Regions from separate parts of the Homo sapiens genome. Here region 2 is linked to region 1. The links come from fine-mapping of genetic effects on gene expression. A gene starts in region 1. The other region holds a variant in brackets. All regions are shown on one strand. Distances are between the middles of the regions. Region 1 holds the start of LINC01343 (long intergenic non-protein coding RNA 1343). Region 2 overlaps MIR3659HG (MIR3659 host gene).

What was found. PIP is the estimated chance that this variant, and not a neighbour inherited with it, causes the effect.
Region 2: its variant is fine-mapped to the expression of LINC01343 in sun-exposed skin (GTEx, PIP 0.99). The same link has a PIP of 0.9 or more in unexposed skin.

The regions. Positions count from the first base shown.
Region 1 is chr1:38,206,210-38,221,913 of GRCh38, forward strand. LINC01343 (long intergenic non-protein coding RNA 1343) reads right to left here and starts at 8,558. Exons shown (of 4, transcript NR_038928.1): 1 at 8,508-8,558; 2 at 5,889-6,242; 3 at 5,525-5,613; 4 at 2,825-4,613. It overlaps LOC105378654 (a long non-coding RNA gene), which reads left to right. Exons shown (of 7, transcript XR_001737987.2): 5 at 3,062-4,573; 6 at 6,039-6,298; 7 at 6,800-13,031.
Region 2 is chr1:38,097,242-38,110,574 of GRCh38, forward strand. It overlaps MIR3659HG (MIR3659 host gene), which reads left to right. Exons shown (of 5, transcript NR_168386.1): 2 at 5,176-5,255; 3 at 6,305-6,420; 4 at 8,391-8,511. Among named protein-coding and RNA genes, the nearest start is that of MIR3659, 15 kb to the left of the region's middle. The variant A/ATGCCG (reference allele first, on the strand shown) is at 6,269.

The DNA.
Region 1 (15,704 bases):
AGACTGGACAACTGAGCAGGAGATGATTAAAAAAAATAAAAATACTAGCAGATACTTATATACCATTTACTACGAGCCAAGTATTATTCTAAATGTCTTCCATATATTAATTAAGTGAATCCTCATAACCACCCTGGGAGGTGGGTACTAGTGTCATCCCCATTTTACAGATGAGGAAACTGCAACCCCATGAGCTTGGGTAACTCATCTATGGTGATACTGCTAAGAAGTGGCAGAGCTGGGACTTGAACCCCAATATTGTGGCTTCAGGGTCGAGGCTCTTAACCATAATATGTGCATCCTGCTCTTTCTGAACCCTGTCACCAGGTCACCAGAGATAAGAGCTCATGTCCAACAGCTTCAGCTAAAAGGGAGGTATTGGCTCTGTGCTTGGAAGGTTTGGGGGGGCCTGGCCCTAGGGTTCTGGGGGTCCAGGTGATGTCAATAGACCAGCCATTCATGCAGCCTCTCTCTGTCTCTGCTCTGCTTCCATCTGTAAGCCAGCTTGTGTCTGTTCCGTGACCACAGGGGCCAGCTCCCAGAACTGGCTGCCCCACCAGACCCACAGGTTGTGGAGAAGGGCCAGCTTGGCACAGGGAGGGGGTGTCACAACCAGAAGAAGGGGGCAGAGGTGCCAGGCAGACAAAGATAACAGATGGAGACTTCGAGCTCCTGCCCCTGCAGGGGGTTTATACCTTTTAATAGCCCTCACTACAACCTAGAAGCTCCCATTTATAAATGAGGAAACGGAGGCACAAAGTAACTTGTCAAGGGTCCCACAGCTTGAAGTGGCACCAGCGGCATGCAAGCCCAGGGCTGCCTGATTCTGGACTCCATGCTGCCTGGAGCTTCTCAGACGGAGGCCCTGGGGGTCATATTGCATGGCTCACCTTGGCTTCCCCAAGACCTCAGGGCAGTTCTGTGGTTAGAGGACACAGGCCGAGAGGCACCTGGAGGGAGGGAGGCCAGGCCTCACCAGGGCCAGTGGCCAGGCTGGAGGGAATCACTGGTTGAATGGTGCTCAGGGTCCTGGAGCTGGTGGAGGTGGGTTCCCTGCCCTCCCCTGGCCCTGCATGGCCCCCAGGGCTGTGAGTCTGGGGACTGGGCACCTCCCCTGGGCCTCTGGCAGGGAGCGAGCAGTGCCTGAGGCAGGAGGCAGGCAGGCATGGCGTGGTCCCTGCCCATCTGGGGAGTGCTTGGTGGCTGGCTGGAACTGAGCAGTGGACGGCGTTTGGACTCAGCAGCGTGAGCCCAGCTCGGAGGCTGCGAGGCAGAGCCGTGAACGCCAACAGTCTGGAGGCAGGCTCCGGAGGGAGACAGGCTCGGGCCCATTCGCTGAGCTTGGTTCCCACGACAGCTCAGCAGACAGATGGACCTGGGAATCCTCACTGCCTGGCCAGGAGGGCGCACACATGAATGGAAATGCAGGCACCCCGGTGGGGAGGGACAGGCTGGAGGTTCCCAGGGAGGGCCAGGGGGGCGAGCCAAGGAGCAGGAGCTATGGCCTGGGCTAAGCGGTTAGATAAACCAGTTGGGTGTGCTGTGCTTCTTGGTTAGACTGATCCCTGGGCCTCGGCCCAGGTATAGCCCTGACCTTGACCTCAGGCTTTGCCTTGATTCCAGCCTCAATCTGAATCCTGAACTGGAACCCAGACTGAGCTGTGACTCTGGCCTCTGCTCAACTGGGCCGGGACCTTGGTCTTAGACTGAGCAGACTGAGCCCTGACCATGACCCCAGATTGAGCCCTGATCATCAAATCCATTTGCCTATGTCCTTCTCTGAAAGCAGCCCAGAGCCGACTGCCCACAATACTCACCAGTAGGGGTGGGTAAAAGGTGAGGGCCGGGCCCAGGTGGTACTGACAGCCTCTGGATGGCACAGGAGAGCAAGAGCAGAATTGACTTAGAGTGGTGGTGGGGTCGAAGGGTGGCATAACTGACCAGGAAGAGAAGACTCGCCTGCTGGGATGGAGACCAGAGGGCAGTGTCCCCTGCCCACCTTGAGCAGGTCCAAAATTCAGGCTGAGGAGGACAGAGCCCAGGTGGGTGGGCTTATGGGGTCCCAGGAGGCAGGAGGCAGGAGGCACTTGAGAATGAAGCAGGAAAGGCAGGACTGCCCGCCGGAGCCAGGGAGAGGACAGTGCGAGTGCAGTTGTGACCAGAGCTGGGGCCTGGGGAGGAACCCTCTTCCCAGGACCAGAGTCACCTGGAGCTCGGAAATCAGCAGCACCTAAGAAAGACAGGCAGGCAGAGGCCCAGCAAGGAGATGAACGCAGATCATTTGGGAATGAGCCAGCCAGGAATGACTTTGGTTAGGGGCTGGTGGTGATGATGGAAGGTGTGGAGTATTAGAGGGCACTCCCTGTTCTTGGTACTTCCAACTATGATCTGATCTAGTCCTCCTAACAGTTTAGTGAGATCTTGCAGCAGCGGCCCTGGATGCCCCAGTCTCCAACTTCCCCTGGGCACTCACTGCCCCATACCTGCCATGACTCTTCCTTAGGGTTCCTCTGGCTGCCAGAGTGTGCTTCCCTGGCACTGGAAGTGTATGTGTAGGGGGGTAGGTGTTAGGGCCCCTGGGAACAGTCAGCAATGGACTGGGGTGGAAGCATAAAGAGTCCAGCTTCCTCTCCTTCAAAGGAGACAGCTCTGAGGTCAGTTCTACGCTATGTCCTAGACCAGAGGCTGGGGAAGTTTGTTGGCAAAGGGCCAGAGAGTCAATATTTTAGGCTTGGAGGACCATATGGTGTCTGTTGCAACCATTTAACTCTGTCATTGTGGCAGAAAATCAGCCACAGATAATACAGACATGAGTGGGCATGGCTGTGTTCCAATAAAACTTTATTTACAAATTCAGGAGGCAGGCCTGATTTGGCCTGTGGGCTGTAGTTTGCCAACCCTTGAGATGGCCCCAGTAGGCCTGGGTCCAGCGTGGTCACCAGCTCATTCACGCGCCTTTCATTGCTCTCCTCCCCTTCCCAGTCTCACTTCTCCACTCCCTACTGGAACTTCCAGGATCTCTTCTTAAATAAATGACTTGATCTTGAATTCTTGTCTCTAGGTCTGCTTCAGGGGACCCCCAATCTAAGACAGATATCCCCAATTTCACATGAAGAGACTGAGGCAGCTGGAGGCAAAGCAGCTTGTACAAGACCCCACAAGAAGAGGAGGAGTTGCTTTCTTGAACTGCTGTGGTTTTACCCACAGTCACCGGACCGTGCTGCCGCCCTGGTGGGAGGATGTGTCTGCCTGCACAGGTTGAACAATCTCAAGACACCTTGCTGGAATTGGCAGAACATTGAGCTCATTCGGTCACTACCAGGGCTATCAGGCACAGAGGATGAGGCAGTCCTGCCCTGCCCTCTAGAACCGAAAGTCTGGACAGGGAGTGGCAGTTAAATGTGGGGCAGAATGAGATCAATGTCTCCAAGGGGTAACCCTGTCATCCTCTCCCTTGGATCTTCTCTGGGAGAGCTGCAGGACATGAGCGATCACTCTTTCTTTTCAGATGGGTAAACTGAGGCTCAGAGAGGAGATGGACTTGCCCCAGGCCACACGGCTTATACCTGGCAGAACTGAGTCTGTCCCAGGGCTCTTTGAGCACCTGGGGATGCAGAAGCTGGCGGGGTGGGAGGTGGCGGGGACTGTGGAAGGCTTCGTGGCTCTCATGGGCACTCCAGCTCACTGTCTTTACTGCCACAGCCACTGCTTCTACATTTGCTATCTCATTGGATCATGGCGCCTTGAACAAAAGTGTCCTTACTCATTATCTAATTGAACTCCCATTTTACAGGTGGGAAAATTAAGACCCAGAGAAGGAACTTCCCAGAGAGCTATCCAGTGAGCCAAGTCAGAGTTAGGAGCAGGAGCCTCAAATTCCCAGGAAAGCAGCACGGTCCTCGAGTTCCCCCAAAAGCCAGACGGCATCTTTGACACCTGACTCCCAGGGGCCAGTCCTGGAGAGGACACCTGGCCTGGAGCCAACCTTCCTCTCCTCGCTGCCAAAGCTCTGCTCTCTGGGTTCTGGCACTGTCTGAAAATTCCTCCGTTGGTCTGCTCTCGGCAGAGCATAGATTATCACTCTTGTGCTAATTATTTTTATGATTAAAAGATGATAAATTATTAAACAAAGTCTGAAAAATGTGCCAAGATCTGCTCTGAGGCTGGGCCTGAGAAGTTGCCCCCTTGGCGTCCACGTTAATTAATAAATGAGACTCTCCGTGGAGAGGAGCCACAGCTGGTATATCTGGCAGCCAGGCAGGAGCTGGCGGAGGCCAGATGCCATGCAGGTGGGGAGGAAGGGACTCCCTGGGAGTGCCCAGCCTGGGATTTGGTAACAGAGTCCCCTCCCTCTCTGCTCCCAGCCTAGGACTCAGCGGAGAGCCCCTTGGTACCATCCGAACATCTGGCCTCTGGAAGAGGCCTAGGATTTCAAGCTGAGAAGCTCCAGCTGATACTTTAATGCTGTTCCCCTCTCCAAATGCAGACTTGGGAGCACCCCAAGTGTCTAAAGGAAGGCCGGAGACCAGGATTCAAATCTCTGCGAGCCCATTTCTCCTTGGGTAACTTTTGGGTAGGTCACTCAATGAGACGCCAAGCCTCAGTTTCCTCATCTGTAAAATGGGTAGAAATGACATCTATTTTTGCAAGGGTATTGAGAGTGTTAAATAGGATAATGTCTATCAAGAGCACTCAGCTCCCAGCAGATGGTCAAAAAATGTTAGTTGGGCTGACTTGAAGCTTGGGTTTTTTGCTGTGCTGCCATAACTAGCTGTGAAACATTGGTCAGGCAGATTTACCTTTCTGAGCCTCAGTTTCTTTATCTGTAAAATGGGAATGAGAACTCCCAAATCTTAGGATCAAAGGGAAAACTATATGTGAAGTGTCTAACAAAGAGTAAGTACTCAATTAATGGTGGCTATTTTATCATAATTGTTTATTACAGCGCCAACACACTGAAGTTTCAACAAGTGGGTATTCCTCCTTCACCATGGGCACTTCTTCCTGCATCCTTTGCTGGTTCTCCTCCCTCCCCACCTTACTCCTTGCAGCGCCCTGGGCTCAGGCCTCCATGTCTTTCTTCCTTACACTCTCTCCCTTGTGAGCTCATCCATCTGTATGCTGATGGCTTCCACATTTCTAATGCTAGCCTCGACCCTCTTCCCAGAACTCCAGACTCCTACAAGCAGTTGCCCATTCAAACTCTCCCCTTGGGTGTTTAATAGATATATCAGATCTAATATGTCTAATAATGCATCTCAAATGGAATTCCTCATCTTCCCCTCTGCAAACCTGTTCCCCACCGCCCCTACAGTCTTCCCCACTTGGTTAATGATGGCTCCATCCTTCTGGTGACACCTTGGAGTCATCCTTGATTCTGCTATTTCTTTCACTTCAAATACCTAAACCATCAGGAAACCCGGACAGCTCCACCTTCCACCTCTGTTAGAACCTCAGCACCTAGCCATCCCCCATCACCTCCCCCACTCCCACCACCCTAGCATAAGGCACCATCACATCTTACCTGGACTCTTGCAGTAGCCTACTAATTGCTGTCCCTGCTGCGGTACTTGACCCCTATAGTAATGCTCTACATAGCTGCCAGGATGATCCCTTTAAAACACAAACACTAGACCCAGTCACACCTGCTTATAATCCTCCAAGAGGCAAAGTCTTTGCCAAGGCCACAAGGCCCTGTACTACCTGAACCTCCCCGCTTGCTAAGACCTCCCTCTCTTACTCTGTGCCAGCCACGCCTACCTTGGTGCTTTCCGTGAACACACCAGGGGCACACTCCCACCTTGGATCTTCATACTGGCTGTTCACTCTTCTCATTCCTCACCTCCCTCAGACCTCTGCTCAGAGGTCACCTTTGCTGTGAGGCTTACCTTGACTGTCCCATTTAAAAGTGCACCCCGACATTCTGCATGGTGGCTTCCCTCTTCCATTGTGCATGTCCTCTTCTTACATACTGGAGTTTCTTGAGCCTTGTGTTTGCTGTCTTCTCCCTCCAGCATTATCCGTTTTGTGCCCTGCAGCATTCCCACAGCAACCAGCACAGCCCTTGTGTGGTGGAGGTGCCGGGCATACTGAGATGCATCTGTCAGCATCTGCCTCCTGGTACCTTGGGCCTGCATGTCTGGCAGGCAGGTAGAAGAACACGCTGGCCATTTCAATGTTAAGACAAAGAGGTAGAGAAGGCTGGATGAAGGAGGTGATGACTGAACCATATCCTGAGGCAGCTGGGGTTTCCAGGAAGAGGACAGAGAGAAGGACATTCAGGTGGAGGAGCCAGCAGGTGCGAAGGCTCGGCAGCTCAGAAGCATGCTCTGAGAATGGCAGGTTGTCAATGGCAACCCGGGAAGGGGATGGGGGAGATAAGCTGGAGAGGAGGCAGGTGCCTGGGGTGGGGTGCAGAGGGAGGCCAGCTCAGATCTCCTGATTCTGCCTGGTCCTCCACCCTCTGCATAAGCAGATGGGGCACATGCCCACCCTCGTGATTTCCCAAAGGATACACAGTAGTTTAATTGCCAGAAACAGGATATTAGCAAAATAACCATATTTCATTGTGTCTGGGATGCACAACTATTTTCTACACCACTCAGAAACACTGCCGGCTAATGTGTGCCATGGCATGAAGACCCATGTGAAAGCATGTGCATCTTTCCAGTTGTGGCTTATATGGTAATAGGTAGTATTGCCTAGCACTGTAAAAGGACTTCAGATATATTATCTCACTGCATTCTTGCACCAACAATGGGTACCTATGAGACAAATAAATTAGTTCCCCATTTTACAGATGTGACAACCAGTGCACAGAGAGATTAACTAACTTGCCGTCCAGTGGGCATGTGGTGGAGCCCAGGGTGAAACCCAGGCAGTCTCTAAAGCATTGCCTTCCAACATGCAATGGAGTGTGAAATGCGGAAGCCATGGGGAAGCACAGGAAATCGGCCATGTAAGATAGGAAGCAATGGTTCGATTTATTCAGTGGTGACGTCCACCACAGCTGCATTCCAGTAATCTGCACCCCTCATCCCAACATCCTCACCCTGCTCTGCCTGTGTTGGACAACTCGTCTTCTTGACCGGAGGTGATCTCCCACAGTGAGGTAGCCCTACCCTTTTGTTTCAGCTCTTGGAAAACCCCAAACCTCAAGGCCATACACTCCTTGTGGCCAAGTGAGCATCTTGGCAACTTCCCGGCTTTTCCAAAGAGAACTAACTCCTGCTGGGGGCCCCCCAAGTCACCCCTCATGGCCCTTACTTCTAGTGCTCTGGAAATGGCTGAAACCAATGGATTAACTTGCTTTCCCTATTAAATATTTACATAAACACGCTCGGGAAGGTGTGTGTAAGTTATCAATAATGCAAGGCCAGCCTAGGCTCGGTGAGAGCTAAGAGACCCAAATTGTATCATCATAATCCATTATTCACATATAATGCGTCTATTCTCCTCCATTAGCGCAGGCAGGAAATGCCCCTGAGTGCCGGGCAGGGCTTTGGAAAGCGCAATAAATGGCGGACAGACACATGGCGGGAGGGCGGCAGCTGTAGTTAAACAAGTGTAAATTAGCGCCCAGCCTCGCTCCCTGCCTGCAGCCAGAGCGGCGGGCACAGGCCTGGCAGGGAGGGGTTACAGGATGTGGGGAACTCGCTATCAATCTAGACAGCCCTCATGGCCTCCCTGGAAACCCTTCCGGAGGAGCCCTCCAGCTGGCCGCGTGGGAGACCACGCCTCAGAGAGCACAGGCTTCTGCTCTGCAGGCCTTGGCTGGAATCTCAGCTGCACCACTGAGTGGTGACCTGGGGCGAGAGGGTGGAGGGGGCTGCTGCGCAAGCTGCCCCCACACTGAGCTCCGAGCCCCATCTGTAATACAGGGATGAGAATCACCGTCTCACAAGGTTGTTGCGTGAAGGAAATAAAATGAGAAAGGAGAAGTTCCCAGCATACGGCACACGGGAGGCCCTTAGAGAATGAAAGAACACTCCTCTCCCTCCTCCCGCTAGGCGGTTTCAGACTTAGGAATAAAACGGGAGAAGCTTTGCACCGTACCCAAATGGATGTGGTGCAAAGGCAATGCGAGGTAAAGACAGAAGTGGCTTTATGTTGTCCTCTCGTCAGCTTTGCTGTCCCTGCAGGAGGCTCCTCTCCTCTGGACCCCACCCGAGTGCCCGGTGCTGCGGTCCGTCTCCTGGGCTCAGCAAGCACACTCACCATCGCCACCCCGTCTCCAGGACTTCTTCAGCCCTTAGTCCGTCCACACCCTCTTCTCAGCACTACCGTATTCCCCTGGGAGGCAGGTCCTGCACAGAGACGAGCACATCTGCTGTTGAAACGACCCCAGACCAAACGAAAGTTTTTGATTACCCGTGAACTGGAAGGTGGACTTTTGGTATAAAGAGCACCAGACTGGGAGTTGGGAGAGCTGAGTTCTTATCTCTGTCACCGCTGATGCTCTGTGGTTTGCGGAGAGTCCCATGGCCTCTGGACCTCAGTCTGCCTACCTGTAAGAGTAAGGGAATTAATCAAATGATTTGATGATCACGCATGACTTAGTGAATGTGAAGTGCTAGGTGTGTCTCAGGACCCTTCCTGGCTCCAGAACCCTCAGGATCAGAGGCATCATGAGATTCTAGAATCAATATTCTGGTTCAAGTCATTGCTTTGTCTTGTCTCCACAGCTACAGCTGGATTTTTTCTAGCACCGAAGCTGTGTCGTGGTACAGAGACCCAGTGCCCTGGTGTCAGGTGGATGGGCATGAGCTTGATTCACCTTTTACAGAGGAATCACATTAGCAGCCCCTCCTTACCCCTCCCCTCCCACTGTAAGGGGTCATGAGCCCAATGCCTAAGGGCATGGCAGTGATGGCTGTTCAGTGGAGGCCACAAAATAAAATGTGAATTTGGAAAGGCAGGGAGCAGATGACCAGGTTTTGTACTTTTCGGACAATGGTGTCCACATGTGGGCGGTTTGTCTGGGCCAGACCAGTTCTTGGCTCTGATGCCACCTCCTCAGAGAGGCCCTCCCTGCCCTATCTAAGAGCCGCCCCACTACTCTCTTTCCCCCATCCATTTTATTTTTCTTCCCATCACTACCTGACATTTTATTGTGTACCTACTAGTTTTCTTGCTCATTGTGTGTTTCCTCGACTGGAATGTTGGCTCCATAAGGACAGGTATCTTGTCCGTCTTGTTCTCTGCTGTTCCCCTGAGGCCTGGCCCCTAGTAGAAATTCGATACGTACTGAATGAATGAATGATTGTAGATTCAAATTTAGCACACATATATTGAGCACCTACTCTAGGCCCATCACTGTGCAGGTGCTTTTACATATGTTACACATTTAATCGGCTTAACAATGACATCTATTCATATATATTAAGACCAGTGGGCACTAACATTAAATTTCAATTAAGTGAGCCTGGTAGGAATGCTTCACATCTCCTCCCCTGCTTCATGTGTGCCAGGGGGCTAATCATGATTGAAAGGCTGAAGCAGTTGAATGATGTTGTGTTCCTATGTCCTGATGCCTTCTCCCAGGCTTTCCTTTTTTTTTTTTTTTTTGAGATGGAGTCTCTCTCTGTCGCCCAGGCTGGAGTGCAATGGTATGATCTTGGCTCATCGCAACCTCCGCTTCCTGGGTTCAAGCGATTCTCCTGCCTCAGCCTCCTGAGTAGCTGGGATTATAGGCATGCGGCACCACACCAGGCTAATTTTGTATTTTTAGTAGAGACGGGGTTTCTCCATGTTGGTCAGGCTGATCTCAAACTTCCGACCTGCTTCGGTGATCTGCCTGCTTTGGTCTCCCAAAGTCCTGGGATTACAGGCATGAACCACCGCACCCAGCCTAAACTTTCCTTCTTGTCCTTCCTTCAGTTCAGCTCATCTGCTCTCAAACTCAAGGGTGTTTAGGTAAAAATGACTGTACTAGGTTATATACAAAGAAAGCCAGGGAGCCGATTTCAAGGAATTGAAGAGAAATTTGAACTCTATGCAACTTTTGCCTGATGTACCAATTTTGGAATCAAATGCTCATATGCTATATAAGATTACTGTACTAGCTGCGTGGCTTTGGGCAAGTTACTAACCCTCCTTGAGCCTCAGCTTCCTTATCTGTATATGAAGATATTAATAGCTACCTTACAGAGTATATAAGATCTGCATATGATCTGTATATGATAAGCAATAGGTGGGTTTGAATCCTACTTTCAGCGCTAACTAGCCATGTGACCTTAGACAAGTTTACGTAATCCTTCTGTTCCTCAGTTTCCTCATCTGTTACATGGGTGATATTAATAGGGTGTACCTTTTGATTGGGCTGGACCCTGTTTGCATTCTGCCCTGAAGGAGAGCGGGGCTGTGGGTCAAAGCTGCCCTAATTATAGGTGCAGCATCCGGAGCAAGGTGTTGCTTGGCTCTGCACTGCTGGCAGGTGTGGAAGTCCTTGCCCCATGGGTGAATTCCAGCGCAGTTACTGCCTGTGGGGCAGTAGTTGGCAGGTGGCAAAAGAAAAACTTTAAGAGAACACAGATGGTCACACTTGACAAAAAATGTTCTAGCAACCTCACCTACTGAAATCTCCAAATGTTCTCCAGTCCTGGGTACTTTAAACATACACTGGCCCTAATCAGTCAGCATTATTATAGTCCTTCGTTCATTTAACAAATAGGTATTGAGTGCTATTATGTGACAGGCACTGTACTAGGGAGTGAGAAAACAAGTCAGGCACAGTCTTCATCCTCATGGAGCATGCAATTTGGTGGCCATAGTGATAAAAAAAAAATAACAAGAATAATAAGAAGATGGCATCCATTTATAACATGCCCAGAGCCTGGGCTATGTGCTTTCATATAGCACCTTATTTAATCCTCACAACATTCCTATGAGGCTCATCTTAATATCCTCATTTTATAAATGAGGTACCTAAAGCCCAGAGAGGTGATGCGACTTCTGCAAGGTCCCAGAATTAGCAAGTGGTAGTCGAGACACTGGAATCCAGATCCATCTATTTCCACAGTGTTACTGTCACCTTTTCCTCTGAAGTAGCTTCCAAAAAGGGAGAGTCTCCTGGGCTACCTGGGACCTTCCAGAGGAAGGAAGGGCCTGGTGAGGACAGGAGAAAACAGTTGATCCTGAAATCCCTGCTCAGTGCTGAAGTGTGGAGACTGTCCTGCCGTAGATTGCAGGAACCCTATATGGGGCGAGCAGTAATAAGTCCCAGCTCAGTGTGCGGGTGGAGATGCCCGTGAGGAAGGGCCAGCCACAGGCTTGCTTGGGCAGTGGCCCAAGCTGGTGGTGTGACATCTTTACTGTCTGATTATTTATAGAGTCCCTGGGACAGCAGGCATCCAAGGCAGCTCAGAGGTTATGGGCTTGGGGACCAGGAGAAATAAATAGCCTTCAAAAACCCCAGCCTGGTGGGGGAAGATATGGAGCCAGGATGAGATGTCTGCCCCGCAGTCTGGTGGGGGCTATATGAGGAGAGGAAGGACTGGGGTCCCTGGAGCCTGCAGGGACCATGCTGGGGGACAGCTGGGGGACAGGCCAGACATATCTCTCCCTTGGCCACTGGGCTGGGGGAGACCTGAGAGCCTCAGCCCTGTGATGGAGGCAGTGATCTCACTGGGGAGGGCCTGGGGCCTGGGGCCTCGGACTCAGGTCATCATGCTAGCCTCTTGAGAGTGGCAAGGAGTCCAGAGCAGGGGCAGGAGCCTCAGGCTGTTGATTCTGCAGGAGGTCACTGTTCTATCAGAGTTCTATCAGAGAAGCAGAACGTGTGTGATCCGAGGGCTTTATGCTCGGGGCAAGGCTTTTCCTGATCATGGGAGCTGCTAGGCAGCGGTGTCAGCCTGTATTCACGTGTCTGCTCCAGACCTGGAGTCAGCAGGGCTGGCGGTCAGCAAGAGAAGATGGACAGGAAGAGGAAGTGAGCAAGGACAAGGCAGAACCCAAAAGAATGGCCTGAACACAAAAGGAGGAGCGTCACCAGTTGAGGGCTTGCTGGGATGGCATCTGCTTCTCACTGGCACCTGGGTGGCCTCCCACTGCCTCTAAGCCTCCAACTGATGATATGGGTGATCTGCAGAAGAACTAGCCCGCTTCACCACAAAGCTGCACACAAGCCAGGCCCCGAGTTTGGAGAAGCTGAAAGAGGAGATCGATCTGGGGTTGCCACCCCAAGATCGCAAGCTAACAAGGTGAGCCAGCAGGTGGGCTGCACACGCATGAGCTGAGAATCACCCAAACCCACATAGACCTTGAGTGCAAATGAAGCTGCTGCTCCACTTCTGCCTTCCAAATCTCACACAAATTTCTCTTGTGGCCACCCCTAACCCAGAACTGTGCAGGAAATTCTGGGACATGTAGTTCCAGCTTTGCTAAGTTGACACAGGACAAAGCGTGCACATTCACTGTGTGACTTTGACCAAGTCCTTGACCCTCTCTGAGCCTCAGTTTCACCATCAGTAAAATGTGGGATGGACTCCTCAGTGGTTCCTCTTTTAATGTAAAAAACAAAAACAACAAACAAACAACAACAACACAACCCCAAACCCCAAAACTACAAAAACAAAACAAAAAAGAGGCGGAGACATGGATTTCCTCATCTCTCCTTTGTGTGCAAATGAAAGCGAGGTCTCCTCTAAATAAACCTGCAAATCCCCAGGAGGCTGAGGCCCCAGGTGGGAAGCACCTGGGATAGATCATTTGCAGATCCCTCCTCCTTCGGACAGATAGAATACAAGGCTGAACTTAAGGGCAAGACCTGAGCTCTAGCATTGCTGCTGGATGACAAAGCAAGGTGGTAAGCCTCTCTGAGCCCAGCTTCTTTCCCTCTGTGATAAGAACAATTCTTTTACCTTTCAGGGGTCCATCACATAGATGTCAGATGCTGGGGTAGGGCTCAGAGTGTATAACAGGCTTCTTAGATGGTGACTTAAGATCAGCTTTGTGGAAACCACTGTGCTGTCTGAGGACAGGGAGACAGTGAATTCTAGGACTCCTCCTCAGTGGAGCTCTCTGGACTGTGGGGAGACCATTAACTAATGGTATGGAAACCATTTAAACAAAAGACTGTGGGGCTTCAGGGGAGAGGGAGACAGATTCTGCCTGAGAAGGCTTGTTGGGGAGAGAGTATTTGAACTGGGCCTTGATGAATGGATATAGCGGTGGTTAGCCCAAATGGAGGGAAAGGGTGGTTTAGGAAGAGGGAAGGGCTGGGCAAAGCCTGCAGTTGGGTGCATGCAGCGTGTATCTGGGGACTGGCAAGGACTGTGGTGTCGTGGAACAGAGAATGTGCAGGCAGGAAGAGGAAGGGTAGGGTGGAGAAGGAGCTGAGGATTAGCTTGTAGAGTCTTGGGTGCAAGCTAAAGAGTTCATCCCAGCATTAGCCAGTGCAAGAGGCTCAAGTGTGCAACACTAGAGTCGCCCCAAATGGGACACCAGGGGTCCCCACATCTTCCAGGCCTTTGGGGTAATTCCTTCACATTTGAAAGAGGTAACTCAAGCCCTTTCCACACAGTGGAAGCCCCTAAGTATTCTCAAGGGAGGCTTCCCATCCTTTTCTCAGTCTTCACTGCAGCTGGCTGCCCAGCTCCCTTCTGGATCCTGTAGCACCTGTCCTCACTTGCTGATCTCTTCACTCCAAGCTGGACCCTACCTGATTTCCTCTGCTCGGGGAGTCCACTGGTCCAGGGATGTTGGGTTGAGTAGACTTTTATCAATGGTTTATAGGACAGTGGTGGGGCATTCAGTACCCTCCAGCAGACTCGTGCCATGGGATGAGTATTTATATCACGGAAATCAGCAAATGCTGCACATCAAGGTCTTTCAGCCCCTTCCCTAGAGTTGGTTCTTCAACCCCCACCAGAACACCATTGATTATGCGCAGTTCAAATCACATTTCTTAAGTGAAGATCCTATATCCGGGCCCTATATAAAAACCCCTCAGCCAAAACCCATGCTGGGGAAGTTCCTGCTGTTGGAATTCTTTCATAGGACCCTAAGTTTTCTGCCATATTGCTGGTATTCTCTTTCCATAAACTCCCCACACATCCATTTCTCCCAGATCTTTCAGGAAACTCCACATTCTACACACAATTCAACCCTCTCTTAGTTTTGCCGTCTCTTTCCAGACCACTTCCTAGAGTGGACACTTTATATTTACACCCTCAGGGGCTCGCCAAGTTATTTTTTTTTCTATAGGAAGGAAGTTGCAGATAGGAGAGCTTTAAACAGATTTGTTTTCCCTTCCGCTATGCGAGTCAGCTAAGTTGGATTCAAAAGGTGGTTCTGCAGATACTAAAAGTGATAATTGGGATGCCTGAAACAACGTGGAAAACACTTGTAGGTCACATGCTCAGATCTGCACTCTCACTTCTGGGAATCAATTCTACAGAAACATTTGCACAGATGTATGTATAGGGATGTATGGTGGCACGGTGTGTGATAAACATTGGAAATATTCTAATCGCCTGGCAATGAGGGATAAGTGAAATAAGCAATGGAATGTATAAAGTAGACCAAAAGGTAGAAGTGGGTCTCTGTATATACTGACATGAAATATTTTCACAACATTTTTACAGAAAAAAGTTGCAAAACATAATTTTTTTTTTTTTTGGTAAAAATGTCTTAAAGTATACATATATGTGTGTGTGTGTGTGTGTGTGTGTTTATAGATACAGAAAAATGTCTGGAGGATGAGCCTTAAACTGTTAATAGTGGCAATCTTAAGGAATGGGTGTCTATTGGGGAGGGGCAATGTTCCCTTTTTTATATCATATATTTCTGCATAGTTTGCATTTGTTACCATAAGCATATATTGCTTATGTAATGTTTTTAAAACCAATGATTTTTACAAAGAGAAAATGCTTCAAACACAATGCCAAATATAGATGGTAGGATGCAAAATTGCTTACATATGGTGGTTACAACTCTACAGAAACTCGCGTCTGCGTGGACAGGAATGGAATGAGGAGCATCCCACAAGAAGTGACTGGTGGTTAGGGCGGGGTCCGGGGAGAATTCTTTTTCCTCTTTCAGAAGGCTGGGTAGGGCTGAGATCTGGGACATCTCAAATTCCTCCCAGCACCTTCCTTCATTCCACTCCTGGCCCATGTTCCCGTCACTTACAAGTGGCAGTGGGTATCAACTATTCAATTATTTTTAAATAGTCGAGTGTAGGTCTGGATTGAATAAATCACATTGATGCCAATTTCCAGGGAAGTCCTTTCATATTTTATGATTCACTCCCCACCGTTCCCCCTTTCCTTCCTTGTGCTCCTCCTAATGAACCAGGAGACTGTGCATACTGTTCAGATGTCCCCACTGCTAACCCTCAAATGGAAATGCAGCAGCTGAAAACATCGTGGTTCTGGGTTTTTTTTTTTTTTTTCCTTTTCCTCCTCACAGTCCTGGGAAATTGATATGCAGGCAGGATTATGTTTTGTTTAAAGCTCAGTCCTGGCATCTGAAAGAATACATTACCCAAATTGGTGCATGTGGTTGAAATTCTGCAAAACTCAGTTATGTCACAAGTGGCTTGCCAATGAGGGGTCCAGCCGGGTCTCAGGCAGCATAAATGCCCTGTATCAGAGAGAGTGTAACAGTGGAAAACCATCCACTGAGGAATATTCCTGAAGTCAATAATTTATCTGCTGCTGGTGGAAGGCAGGCCTACCAGGCACCTCTGCCACCGCCATGAT
Region 2 (13,333 bases), 110 kb before region 1:
AGGCTCCAACTGCCTGGAGTCCTGTGGATGCCTTTCTGGCCAGTGAAGAGGTTGGCAGGGCAGGGCCCACCGTGGGGCCCGTGCCACCCCTTGCCTGGACCCTCTCCCTCCTTCCAGGCCAAGAAGTGCCTGGGCTCCTCTCTGGCCTGGGGGTTCCTGCCTCTTCTCCCTTTGCTTTCCTTACAGCACAAGGAGGCCAGAGCCGGATGCCAGCGCCCTTCCTCCCCCATCCCGCAGCACCTGGGATGGGCGTGTGCTCGTCGCTGTCGCCGTGCTCTCGTCTCCCACTCCTGGAGCAGCCACAGCAGGTCCCAGGGGCCTGGAGACAACAAATGGCTCCCTGCTGATGGGCTGCTTGCCGCCTCCTGTCTGCCAGCCAGTCCTGCTGCACACCGGCAGATAATCAAGTAGGGCAGGGGAACCTCTCCTGCCCACGGTGGTGTGATTTAAACCTGAACTTTGCTTTCTTTCATTCCCTGGAGAAACAGGATTTAGATTGTAAATCTCTTTCTTCCTGAGAACATGCGCATACACCCAGGTGCACACACACTTGCATAAACACATAAAGGTGTTCACACACTGCAAACTTGAATACTTACACGCAAACATGTCCACCCGTTTCCACACCACACATGTAAGCAATCACGCACGATGCATCTGCATGTGCAAACAGCTCACGGCCACAGGTAAGGGCAGGAGGAAAATTTGTCAGTGGCTGGAACGGCTGTGATGTGTGGGGTGGGTGGAAGCTGGTGAAGTGGACAAGGGATGCTGAAATTGCAAGAAACTCTCTAGACCTCACCCCGCCTTGTTACATGGGAGAGGAATGAGGTTTGTGCTGTTGCATGAACATGTGTGCCTCTGTGTGTGTCCCTGTGTGCAAGCGTGTGTGTGTGTTTCTGTGAGTGTTTTGCAAGCGTAAGTGTCTTTGTTGAGTGCTGAGGTTGACAGTCTATGGATGGGGTAGTGTGTGCTGCATCGTGCTGGCCTTGGGACTGGACTCAGGACCGGACTGGTGTCCATAGTGCCATGGCCATGCTGTAGGCCTCGGGCAGGCTGTCGCTTTTCTCCGGGCTCCAGCTTCTGCTGGTTCCCCAGGGTTCTGCCAGTTCTGACTGTCTAGTTTCTCTGTGTGACCTTGAGGGTGTGTTTCTCCAAGGCTTGAATGAGCCGGGCTTGGGGTGTGCGTGTGTGTTTGGTGAGCATTTGCGTGTTTATGCTGGGTATGTTTGTGTGCATGTTCGTGTGTCGATGTGTTGTAGGTGTTTGTGCATGTGTTTTTGCCTGCATGTGGGCGTATTTGTATGTTCAGGTGAGTGTACTTACAGCAGCGAGGATGCCATGCACCTGTGTTTGTATTGTGAGTCTGTGTAGAGTCTGGCGTGAGCGTGTGTGACAGTGAGCTTGGGAGGTGATCTGTGGGTGTGTGTTTGCCTAGTGGGAGGATTTGTGAGGGTGGATATGGGAGGCTCCCCGTTCTTACTCCTCTGCTTTCATCTTCTCCGTAACATTGATCACCATTGGACACACTGGGTATTAGTAGTTACTTCTTTGTTTATGGTTTCTCTCCTGAAAGCTAGAATGCAAACCCCATGAGGGTAGGAGTTTTACCTGTTTTGTTCATGGCTGTATCCCCACTATTACAACAGTCCCTGGCACATGATGGTGTAGCTGATGTCCAAGAACATTCACTGAATGAATGAATGAATAACTTAATCATCTCCTTCAAGAGTTCCCTTAAGTGTCACTCTTAATTAGTGTTGACCTCCACTTAAAATTTCTGCCTGCCCCAGCGGATCATGAGGTCAGGAGATTGAGACCATCCTGGCTAACACGGTGAAACCCCGTCTCTACTAAAAATACAAAAACAAAATTAGCCGGGTGTGTTGGTGGGCGCCTGTAGTCCCAGCTATTCAGGAGGCTGAGGCAGGAGAATGGCGTGAACCCGGGAGGCAGAGCTTGCAGTGAGCAGAGATCGTGCCACTGCACTCCAGCCTGGGCAACAGAGCGAGACTCCGTCTCAAAAAAAAAAAATTTCTGCCCTCCCCTCCCCACAGCTCTCTAGTTCTTCTTATGTTGTTCTCATTTTTCTTTTTTAAATTACCTTCCAGTATACCAAGTGATTTACTAATTGTTGTTTACTTTTTATTTTTATTTTCTGAGTGGGAGTTGCACTCTGTCACCTGGCCTGGAGTGCAGTGGTGCGATCTCAGCTCACTGCAACCTCCGCCACCTGGGTTCAAGCAATTCTCCTGCCTCAGCCTCCCGAGTAGCTGGGATTACAGATGCACACCACCAAGCCCAGCTAATTTTTCTATTTTAGTAGGGACAGGGTTTACCATGTTGGCCAGGCTGGTCTTGAACTCCTGACCTCAGTTGATCCACCTGCCTTAGCCTCCCAAAGTGCTGGGATTACAGGCGTGAGCCACCATGTCTAGCTTTGTTTATTTATTATGTACTATCCTAAGTTTTTAAAATTGTTAGTATCCCTGTTAGAATGAAAGCCCTCACAAAGAGTGGAACCTTTGTTCAGTTTGTCCACTGATGTCTTTCGGGTGCCTGGAACAGTGCCTGGCAGCTGGCAGGTGCTTAATTGATATTTACTGAGTGGATGGATGGGCTTCTGTGTGTCATGCGGGCATGAGTGGGCTTTTGAAGTGTTTTCTGTGAATGTGTTTATAAAGTGTGTGTGGGTGTGTGATAGTCAAGGACTGCATTTTTTTTTTTTTTTTTTTTTTTTGAGATGGGGTCTCACTCTGTCACCCAGGCTGGAGTGCAATGGTGCAATTTCTGCTCACTGCAACCTCCACCTCCCTGGGCTCAAGTCATTCTCCCACCCCAATCTCCCTATTAGCTGGAATTATAAGCGTGAGTCACCACACCTGGCTTTTTTTTGTATTTTTTGGTAGAGATGGGGCTTCGCCATGTTGCCCAGTCTGGTCCTGAGCTCCTGATGAGCTCAAGTGATCCACCCACCTTGGCCTCCCAAAGTGCTGGGATTACAGGCGTGAGCCACCATGCCCAGTCAGGACTGCATTTTTAATGATGTGGGTGACTGTGTTTGATGATGTGGGTAACTGTGTACTTTGAGGCCCGAGGGCAAGTCTCTGATAGAGCTTTCAGGTTTGGGGCATCCTGCTTGGGTATTGTCAAAGATTTGCAAACAGACCCATGAATGGCTTCCCTAGGAATGTCTAGGAATCTTTTCCTTGGTGGGCTGCAAACCTGGTGGCCACAGGCCTGAGCCCTGTCCCTGGCAGCCTCCTGGGTCCACCCCTTCCTTTGCCTGTGGGCACATCTGGGCCTCATGCTTAGGGAATTCCCTCACCCTATAGCACAGTCTGAGCCCTGGGCTGGGAGGCATCAGGAGAAGGGCAAAGGCTGTAGTCAGTGCTGGAGGACAGCCACATGAGCAGCAGCTGGCCTCAGCACCTGGACAGTCTGGGAAGAGGGGCCTTGGGGTGCCACTTGGACAGGGGGTAATCCTGGCACCAGGGATTCAGGAGGCAGTGGTCAGTTCAGAGGCATCAGGGTTTGGTGGCAGGTGGCTAAGCCCTGATGAGGGGTTGGGAAAGAGGGTCCAAGCTGGCCCTATGCTTGGGCTGTGGGGGCATCGGGGGCCCAGGCATCAAAGAGTTTATGGTGTGATGTGGGCTTGGGGGCCAACATGAAAAGCCCACTGTTTCAGTCTTCAGGGAGTGGTGGGGTCTGTGCCTCAGTCCAGTCCCATTTAATATGAAGGTGGTGGGCACAGAGCGGCTGGGAGGTGGGGTGAGGGGAGGCCACCCTGTGGATGACAGTGTCAGGACCTAGAAGGCACTCAACCAAGTGAAACTTTGGGCTGAGGCTGAAAGACACATGCAGCAAGGCCAGAGACAATATGCCCCCTTAGGCCAGCATTTAGGAAATATTCTCTAATGCGTGAGTGTGGTGGTCAGGGTCAGACAGCTGCACTCAGCTTTCACAATCTCCAGCTGTGTGACCTTGGGAGGGTTATGTAACCTCTCTGAACCTCAGTTTCCTGACAGGCACAATGCAGATACTTTAAAAAAAATTTCATAGTGAGATTGGAAGGATCAAGCTGTCATTACTACTGTTATTCTTGTTATTTAAAAAGCTGTACAGGTCCAGGAAGGAAGGACTGTCTTGACAGGAATTCAGACAAAAAAAGATCCAGGGTTTTGGCCGATCTCAAATTAGTATGAGGGTCTAATATGGATGGTGAGATCTGTGACATACAAAAGAAGGCAGTGATCCCTGAAGCCAACATGGGTTCACCAAGACCGGGCACAGCTCTTAGGTTCTTGACAGCTTAATGACTCGTGGGTAAAGAAAACGAGCCAGCATGGGTGGAGAGGAATCTGTGATTTATTGAGCACCAACTGTGTGCTGGATACTTCACACGCATGGTTTTATTTAATCCTCACAAGCTTGTGGATTAAACAAGACGTGACAATCTCCATTTTACTGATGAGAAACTGAGTCTCCGGGAAGTGACTTGCCCAAGGTGGGTGGAGCTGGGATTCAAACCTGGGTCTGTCTGACCCTTTCTGCCATATCACACTGTCTCCTAAGATGTTGGGTAGAGTCTCTCGTGACTTTTGAGGACATGAAGGATGTCTGAGAGGGCGCAAAGAGGGCTCCCATTGGGCCAAACAACAGCCATGAAATGTTCACGTAAGTGTAACCAGGTCAGTCTACAGAAGGCCTCTAGACACTGCCATGGGGCTGTCCACCCTGCTTTGATCAGTCTATGCCAAGGACCTATAAGAAGACATGGAGGATACAGACTTATAAAAGGTGGAGTGGTAGAAAGCTCCAAGGGACAGAGAAAACCTCAGCAGAATCAGGATTTAGAAAGATCTCGACAGACTGGCGTGGCAAGGTGAATTTAGCTGAGGAAATATCACAGGGAAAAAGGCTGAGGCCCATCTTGACTACAGGAAAAATTGTAGAAGGGATGGGCAGCTCATGAGAAAGATTTAGAAGCTCAAGTGCCAGTAAGTTCAGCATGAGTCAGTAGGCTACATTAATAGAAGTATGGTGTTTGGGACAAGGGAGGGGGGCCTCTCTCTAGCCTCAGTTTACTCTCTGCCCTGGGGCAGTTTGTACTGCAGGTATTTGAAGGTCATGTGCTATTTTCTGTTTTTCCAGTTCTCTCCCTTTCTTTTCAAGTTATTAGGGGAGGCAGAGTCCTTCTGGAGTTTGACCCTTGGATTCCATCCAGAGCAGCCTCCAAAATGACACCTTTGAAGGTGGGAAAGACACTGCATATTCTCTGGGTTTTTGTTTGAGGTCTGTCTTGGATTTGTTCTTTATGCCCAATTACCCTAAGTCAAGGGAGAAGAAAGTGCTGGTCTCTGAATGTTCTGGAACGGGGAGAGCTCCTGGTTCCCTAGTTCCTACTGGCCAGGTGTATCCATTCCTTTTCCAGCTGTCTCCTTCCCTTCTTAGAGCCCTTTTTCTGGTGGTCAGTGGCTTGCCAGGGCCTGGCCAGGCTGGTTCTCCTATGCTGGAGGAGGGGCAACAGGAGGGAGCCTTGCAGCTGCTCACATTGGGGCTGGATCTCTGCTTAAGCTGGGATGTCACCTGCCAAGCTGAATTCGGCACAGGAAGCTCCTGGCTGGAAGACGCGCTGTTTAATTTGGAGATTCTGTTCCACTCTGAAATGTGCTTCTCCTGGCAGCTGCAATGAAGTGAAGCTGTTGAGCTTCCCTCTCTTATGCCAGAATCACAGCCACTTTTTCCTGAGAAAGAAACAGAGCTACAGACAGTTTTACTCATTAAATACTTTTTTTCCCCTTAAATCTGTTTTTGTAATTTTTTTTTTTTTGCGTGAACGGAAAAGTAAAACGGGTGATATTGAAATAAACAAGGCATTTGTGATGGGAAGGTTAAAGCAGATTGTTGGGGGTGGGGAAGGGGGTTGGAAATGCCCCATGTGTCTGTATGCAGGCTGCTCGTAGCCTGTTGAGGATGAGAGTGAGAGAAAGTATTCATGAGGCTGCCCCTCTCCCAGCCCAGAGGAGTCAATTTCTCCAAGTGTCCTGGGCTTCAGTGAGAAAGGCAGTGGAGAAGGGAGCTCTCGTTTATTAAGGGCCCACCAAGTGCTACGCCTGTAATATGGGTGAGCTCATTCAGTCCTTATGGCAACCCTGGGTGGTAGGAGCTATTTTACAGATAAGGAAGGTTGAGGCTCAGATGACTTAAGGTCAACCCTGCAGGGCATACAGAGCTGGGATTTGAACCTCCATCTGTCTGACCTCTG[A/ATGCCG]TGCTGTTTTTGGCTATACTTTGCTACCCTGAGCAGTTGTGTATCGAGCTGGGGGATGTAAAGGGAGGAGAAGAAAGAAGATGAAGAGATACCAGCCAGCCTTAAGGAGTGGACATCCTGCCTGGTGAAACTGAACAAGACACCTACCGCATGTGAGTGAACCAAGCCCTAGTTGCTGGGCTCCGACAAACATGGCTGGTTTGGGGAAGGGTATGTAAGAGTGGGTGTGGAGGGTTTTGGCCTGATAATGAAGGTAGGCTTCTTGGAGGTAGAGGACCCTGGAAGTTGAGTGGAGTTGAGGGAACAGCCTGGCAACATCCTGGGCCAAGGCAGGCAAGGTGTGAGTATGGCTCTGGTGAGAGGAGGTAAGTCTGAGTCGGGTAGTGATGGTTGTGGTGAGAATATCCATGTTGGCAGAGGAGGATCAGGTTGGAAGATGTAGTGCAAAGAAAGAGCCCTGAGCTGGGAAGCAGGTGCCCAGTTCTTGTCCTGGCTCTGCCATTGAGTTGCTGTGTGATCTTGGGCTAGTCCTCTTCCCTCTTTGGGTGTCCAATTTTCTGTCTGTAAAATGGTAGAGTTGGATTACAGGATCCCTAGAGACCTTTGCAGGGTCCTAAGGAGAAAGAAGGTGACTATAATATCCAGAGGACCTTGAATATCAAGACTTGGCATTAGAATCATGAAATGTTAGGATTAAAAAGATCTCCAGGAATCATCTACTTAAACTATCTTCCTTTACATCCTACAGGATGAGTAGGAGTTATCAGGCAAAGGAAAGCAAAAGATGGAAGAGGGAAAAGAGGGCATTCCAGGCAGGAGACATAGTGTGAACAAAGGCATGGGTGGAGGCACGGTGCAGTGAACATTAAGCAGGTTGACATTGAAGATTAAAGACCAATGTGGCCGAGTGCAGTGGCTCACGTCTGTAATCCCAGCACTTTGGGAGGCTGAGGTGGGTGGATCACCTGAGATCAGGAGTTTGAGACCAGCCTGGCCAACATGTATTTTGTAAAAATACAAAATTTAGCTGGGTGTAGTGGCGCACACCTGTAATCCCAGCTACTTGGGAGGCTGAGGCAGAAGAATCACTTGAACCTGGGAGGCAGAGGTTGCAGTGAGCCGAGATGGCACCACTGCACTCCAGCCTGGGTGACAGAGTGAGACCCTGTCTCAAACAAAAACAAAAACAAAAACAAAACCACAAAAGACCAATGTGGGGTGTGGGAGGAGGCGAGTCATCAGTTAGGAGAGGGAGATGGGACCAGACCTCGGGAGGACCAAGGGGGTTTGACTCCATCCTTTGGGTAATGGGGACTCATTGAAGCTGTGGGAGTGACATGCTCAGAGGTACAATTTTGAAAGATGACTTTGGCAGCTTTGTTGATCATGGATTTGATAGGGGCTGGGAGCAGATACAGGCCAAGGATACGTGCTGACAAGACAGGTCAGGAAGCTGTGTGTCAGCTCAGCAGGAGGTGGTGATGGTCCCAGTCAGGGTGGCAGAGTGGGGACACTGAGGATAGCACCTGTTCACAAGGTATTTGGGAAGTGGAATAGATAGGACTTGTTGATTGATTGGCTATGGGGAGTGGAGAAGAGTGAAGATACAAGGACTCTCAGGTTCTGGCTTGGTGATATTCACTGAGATGGGACACACAGGAGGAGAGAGGGATTTTTTGGGAACAAAGATAGCTGAGTTTTAGATCTGGTGAGTTTGAGGTATCAATGGAACAGTGTGTAATGTCTCATTCATTCATTAATTATTTACTGAGCATTTACTATGTGCCAGCCATGCCTGGATACTGCTTTTCCGTAGCTGTCAGCCTAGAGGGGCATTCAGAAAGTTCTTCTATACACTGAATATTGAGCAGCTGAACTTTTACCCATTGGCCTTCTTCTGCCCTTCAGGACTTCACTGGCGTCTACCCTCCTTCAGAGATTAGAGATCAGTGATTGTGGTTCCTTGCATCATCTTTGTTTCTGGGAACATGGAGCTGTGGAGGGAATGTGGACTTTAGAAAATTATAAAGGCATGGATTTTAGCCCAAGCACCTTTTGTATGATCTCATTTGTTAAGTGGGTTTAACGACAACTTTTGTTTTTGTTTTTGTTTTTTTTTCAGATGGAGTTTCGCTCTGTCGCCCAGGCTGGAGTGCAGTGGTGCCATCTCGGCTCACCGCAACCTCCACCTCCAGGTTCAAGTGATTCTCCTGCCTCAGCCTCTCAAGTAGCTGGGATTACAGGTGTGTGCCAGCATACCCAGCTATTTTTTTTTTTTTTGTATTTTTAAAGAGACAGGATTTCATCATATTGGCCAGGCTGGTCTCAAACTCCTGGCCTCACTGATCTGCCCATCTCGGCCTCCCAAAGTGCTGGGATTACAGGCATGAGCCACCACACCTGGCCTAACAACACCTCTGTTACTGACAGTAGAGTGCTGGAGTGGGTTCCTACTGGCTAACAGAACCCACTGGAGTGGGTTCCTACTGGCAAACGTTTGGGCATCTCTTCCCAATTCTGCATGCATTGACATCCCATTGGTAGCTTGAAATTGACCATCGTGGGAGTATTTACACCACAGAAATTGGCAAATGCTACAAATCAGGACTCCTTTTTTCTTTCAAAAAGCTGGTTGGTAAGTATTTACCAGCTAACAGTAAATATTTATGGCATATAGAGTTGTGGTTTGGATGATGGACGTAGAGCACCTGGCACATGGTACCCAGATATACACATATTGCTTAGCACAGTGGGTACCTAAGTGTGACTACCTTTTCCTTTGATGTTTCCTCTCTATGGGAATACTGTTGCTTCATTTGCTCACAATAACAACCTCCCTTCCACCAGGGCCTGCTCCTCTCTTTTCTCAAACAACATGGTCCCAAGTGAAGCTGCCATCTTCTTACTCCTCTTGGCCTCCATAATGGGGTAGAGTTAAAAGGATGGGGATTTTGGAGTCTCATGAGACTAAATTTGAATCTTGGCTTTGCCTCCTACTAGCTGTGTAATGACCCTGGGCAAGAAATTTAATCACTCTGAGCCTCAATTAAGTCACCTGTAAACTGGGGATGGGCATGCCTCCCTCATTAAGTTGTTGTAAAGATGAAATGAGGTAATGGGTACATGAGGGCCTGGCATTGAGGCGGCAGTTTCAGTGAGAGCTTGACCCATGCTGGTCTCCTTCCCCTGAAAAGTCCAGTGTGGACTTGGGAAACAGCTCTGATGATGGGGTGGGGGGTGGGAGAGGGAGGAACTGGGGCTGCAGCCTTGGGAAGGATGGTTTCTGGTGGAACATGTAGGTCGAGAGAGGCTGTGGGCCATAGGACCTTCCAAATGTATTCTGAGTGCAGTGGAGGGGAACTCCCCTGGCCACAGTTCATGCTTCCAGGGCCCTCACCTGCAGATCTGCAGATAAACTCCTATCATCAGCTTGGCTCGTGCGTTTCTGGGGCGGCTGTGGCAGCCTGGGCTGCCCTGATTTACCACCCCAGCCCCAAGCAGATTAAATCACCCAGAGTCATTTGAATTTTACTTGGCCTTGTCACACAAATCTTAGAAACTGCTGTCTGGCAAGAAAACTTTCCCTGTACTTTTTGGAGGAAAACTAAGAGCTCTAGAAATTGAGGTGAAGTGGAAAAAGGAGGTGGTTCCAGGGGGGTTTCTGCATCTTCAGATCAGACCAATGTTGCAGGTTAGAGGAGGGATTGTGGTGTGTGTGTGTGTTTGTGTGTGTGTGTGTGTATGCAATTGCTGCAGAGGCCTCTGGGACAATGTTGTTTCTGGCTGTGTGACATAGGGCAAATCACTTAACCCCTCTGAGTCTCACAGGACTGTGGTGAAGGTCAAAGGGGCTAGCTTGTGGAAAGCATTTTGTAGGCTTCAATCAGTTCTGTGACTACTAATTGGAAAGATGAGACAAATGACTACATAAATAAATTATATATGGCAGTGGTTACTATGCGTCAAGCAGAGTAAGAGCTCTAGGAGCCAAATGGAGGGGCACATTGCCAGAGGTCTGGGGCTTGACTTGGGCCTTAAAGGAAGCCTAAGTCCCAGGGAAGAGAAGTGGAAGAGGCTGTAGTGCAAGTGAGGTTGTCGACGCCACCTCTGTCTCCATCAGTGTGTGTGGCTCTGAGGTGGATCCTGATTGGTTTAGCCAATTCAGATAATGCCCCCTTCTCTGACCTTGGCACATTGGCTGGTTCCAAACCAACCATACATACATTCTCCTAGTCACTGGAATTGATTCAGATTGGCCCCATCAGACAGAAACTCGGGGTTTTGGTGAGATGGCTGGGGAAGCACGTCTAATCTCTTTGTATCTGGATTTGAATGAGGAAACATGTGGGCCTAGTTTCTGGCAGGCATCTGGTGACTAGGAACACTAACCTGAGAATGTAGCCAACATATGGAGGTGGGAAGAACCTGGAAAATCACAGAAAAATGGAGTCCCAGCCCCAGTCAAACTATGCCTGATGTTTGTTGCATCTGGAGTATTACATGAACTAATCAATCTGCTTTATTAGGCCAGTTTGGATACAGGGGCTGATACGGGGGCTGATGGAGGGATCTGAGTAGGGAGCCGAGAGTCTACTTGGTGTTAGGCAGCCATGAATGAGGAGACCCTGTAGGCGGGAGTAAAGGGTGGGTGAGGGTGCGTAGTGGGGTGAGGGTGGCTGAGGTCTATAGGAAATGAGACTAGAAGAAAGTCTGGGATTGAATAATGGAATGACTCAAATGCAAGGTTAAGAATTTGGGCTTGATTTTGTAGGCAATGGGGTGTAGCTTCAGATTTGTGAGCAGAGGAAGGGAAAGGATAAGTGATGTGAACACAGTGATATTTTGGGAAGATCAACGTAAGAGTGGGATATATATATATATATATATATATATATATATATATATATATAGGATTGGAAAGAGAAATTGGGGGCTGAGACTTTAAAAATTATCATTTATGGATGCTACACATAGTTCATGTATTATCTCACTTAATCCTTAAAAGAGCCTCCCCCATCCCTCTTTTTTTTTTTTTTTTTTAAGCTGACTTTCCAAAATCTTGCGTAACTTGACTAGACCACATAATTAGCAAATGGTGGAGTCAGGATTTGAACACAGGTCATCTGACTTCAAACCCTGTATCCTTATTCACCATATTTATGGTAACACAGTTGACAAATTAGGATGGGCTAGATAAGATAGTGGCTACAGAGGTGGAGAGAATGGAACGAGAGATATTAGGTTGGTGAAGTTCTAGATGTTTTGTCATTAAAATCAGAAACCAGATCAGGATAACCATTGTTATCAACATTTAAAAAACTCTTTTCCAAAAGTGCTAGGCATTGCAATTAGATAAGAAGATGAAACAGAAAGTATAAATGTTGGGAGAGAGGAGTAAATAATCATAGTTTGCAGATAAGATGATTATTTATCTGGAAAACTCAAGACAATATTCTGTAAAACAATCAGAAAAAATAGAGTTTAGTAAAATGGCCAGTAACAAAAAAATTTACACAAACTAACAGTCTTTCTATTTATAAAATGACTATCTAGAAGGTAAAATAAAAGCTCCATCCATACTGTAAAACACAAACACAAAATACTCAGAAATAAACTTTACAAAAAAGTGTGTAGCATTACATGAAGAAAACTCTTCTGAGTTTGAATAAATATGGTATATACCTAGTTCTTGAGTAGAAAGATTTAATGCTTTAAGGATGTCAATTCTCCTAAACAAATGTGTGAAATTAAGATAATCCAATCAAGATCCCAACAGGATTAGAATTTTTTTTGACAAAATAATTATGAAGCTAATCTGGAAGAATACCAAATGAGAATAAGGAAAATTCCAAAAAAGAAAAATGATGAATATTTACTCTATCAGATATTAAAATGTTTTATAAAGGCACAATATAATTAAAATTCTTGTCTAGGAATAGACAGACAGATCACTGGGACAGACTAGAGTCTAGAAATGGGCCCAGATATTTAAGGGAATTTTTGTTTGTTTTTGGAACAGAGTATCACTTTGTTGCCCAGGCTGGAGTTCAGTGGTGTGATCTTGGCTCACTGCAGCCTTGGCTTTTCGGGCTCAAGTGATCCTCCCACCTCAGCCTTCTGATTAGCTGGGACTACAGGTGCAGGCTACCACACCCAGCTAATTTTTTGGATTTTTTTGTAGAGATAGGGTTTTACCATGTTGCCCACATTGGTCTTGAACTCCTGGGCTCAAGCGATCTGCCACCTTGGCCTCCCAGTGTGCTGGGATTATAGGCATGAGCTATTGCACCCAGCCTTAAGGTATTTTTATATGATAAAACAGCATTTTAATTGAGTTGGGAAAATATGGGCTATTTTATAAATGGCGTTGGGATAATGGGCCAGCCATAGCAACACTCCTTATTGGGGTAAGAACTCTCTGACTTGGTCTAATAAGCTCAAGCCATGAAGACCACATGGCATAAATATGAGTGAATATTTTGATCATCTTAAGGTGGGGAAGATTCTTCTAAGTATGACGTGATATTTGAAATCATAAAAGAAAAGATTGATAAATTTGACTATATGAAAATTAAACATTTAAGTACCTTAAAGAACATTATAAGAAAATTTTAAAAGAGGGGTATATACATATGTATGTGTATATATATATATATATATATATATGACAACAGTTTAATTTTATTTCTAATGTACAAAGAGCTCTTACAAATCATTAAGAAAAAGATAAATATCTCATTAGAAAAATGGGCAAAGGACATGAACAGGCAATTCACAAAGAAAATAACTACAAATGCCTGAAAAAACAAAAAGACATTTATTTCCCCCTCCCTATAATCTTAGCAATGCCAATAGAAACAAGCATCATTTGCCTTCTGTTGATCTGGCCAAACATTAAGGCTGACAAAACCCAGGCTTGATGAGGGTCTGGACTAATGTGTGGGCACGGTTGATGAGAATTTTGCTGTTGTAAGCTTTCTGAAGGACAGAGTGGCAAAATAGAAATAGCATACCCTTAATTGCAGCCATCTCATTTATTGGATTTTATTCTAAGGCAATTGTTGC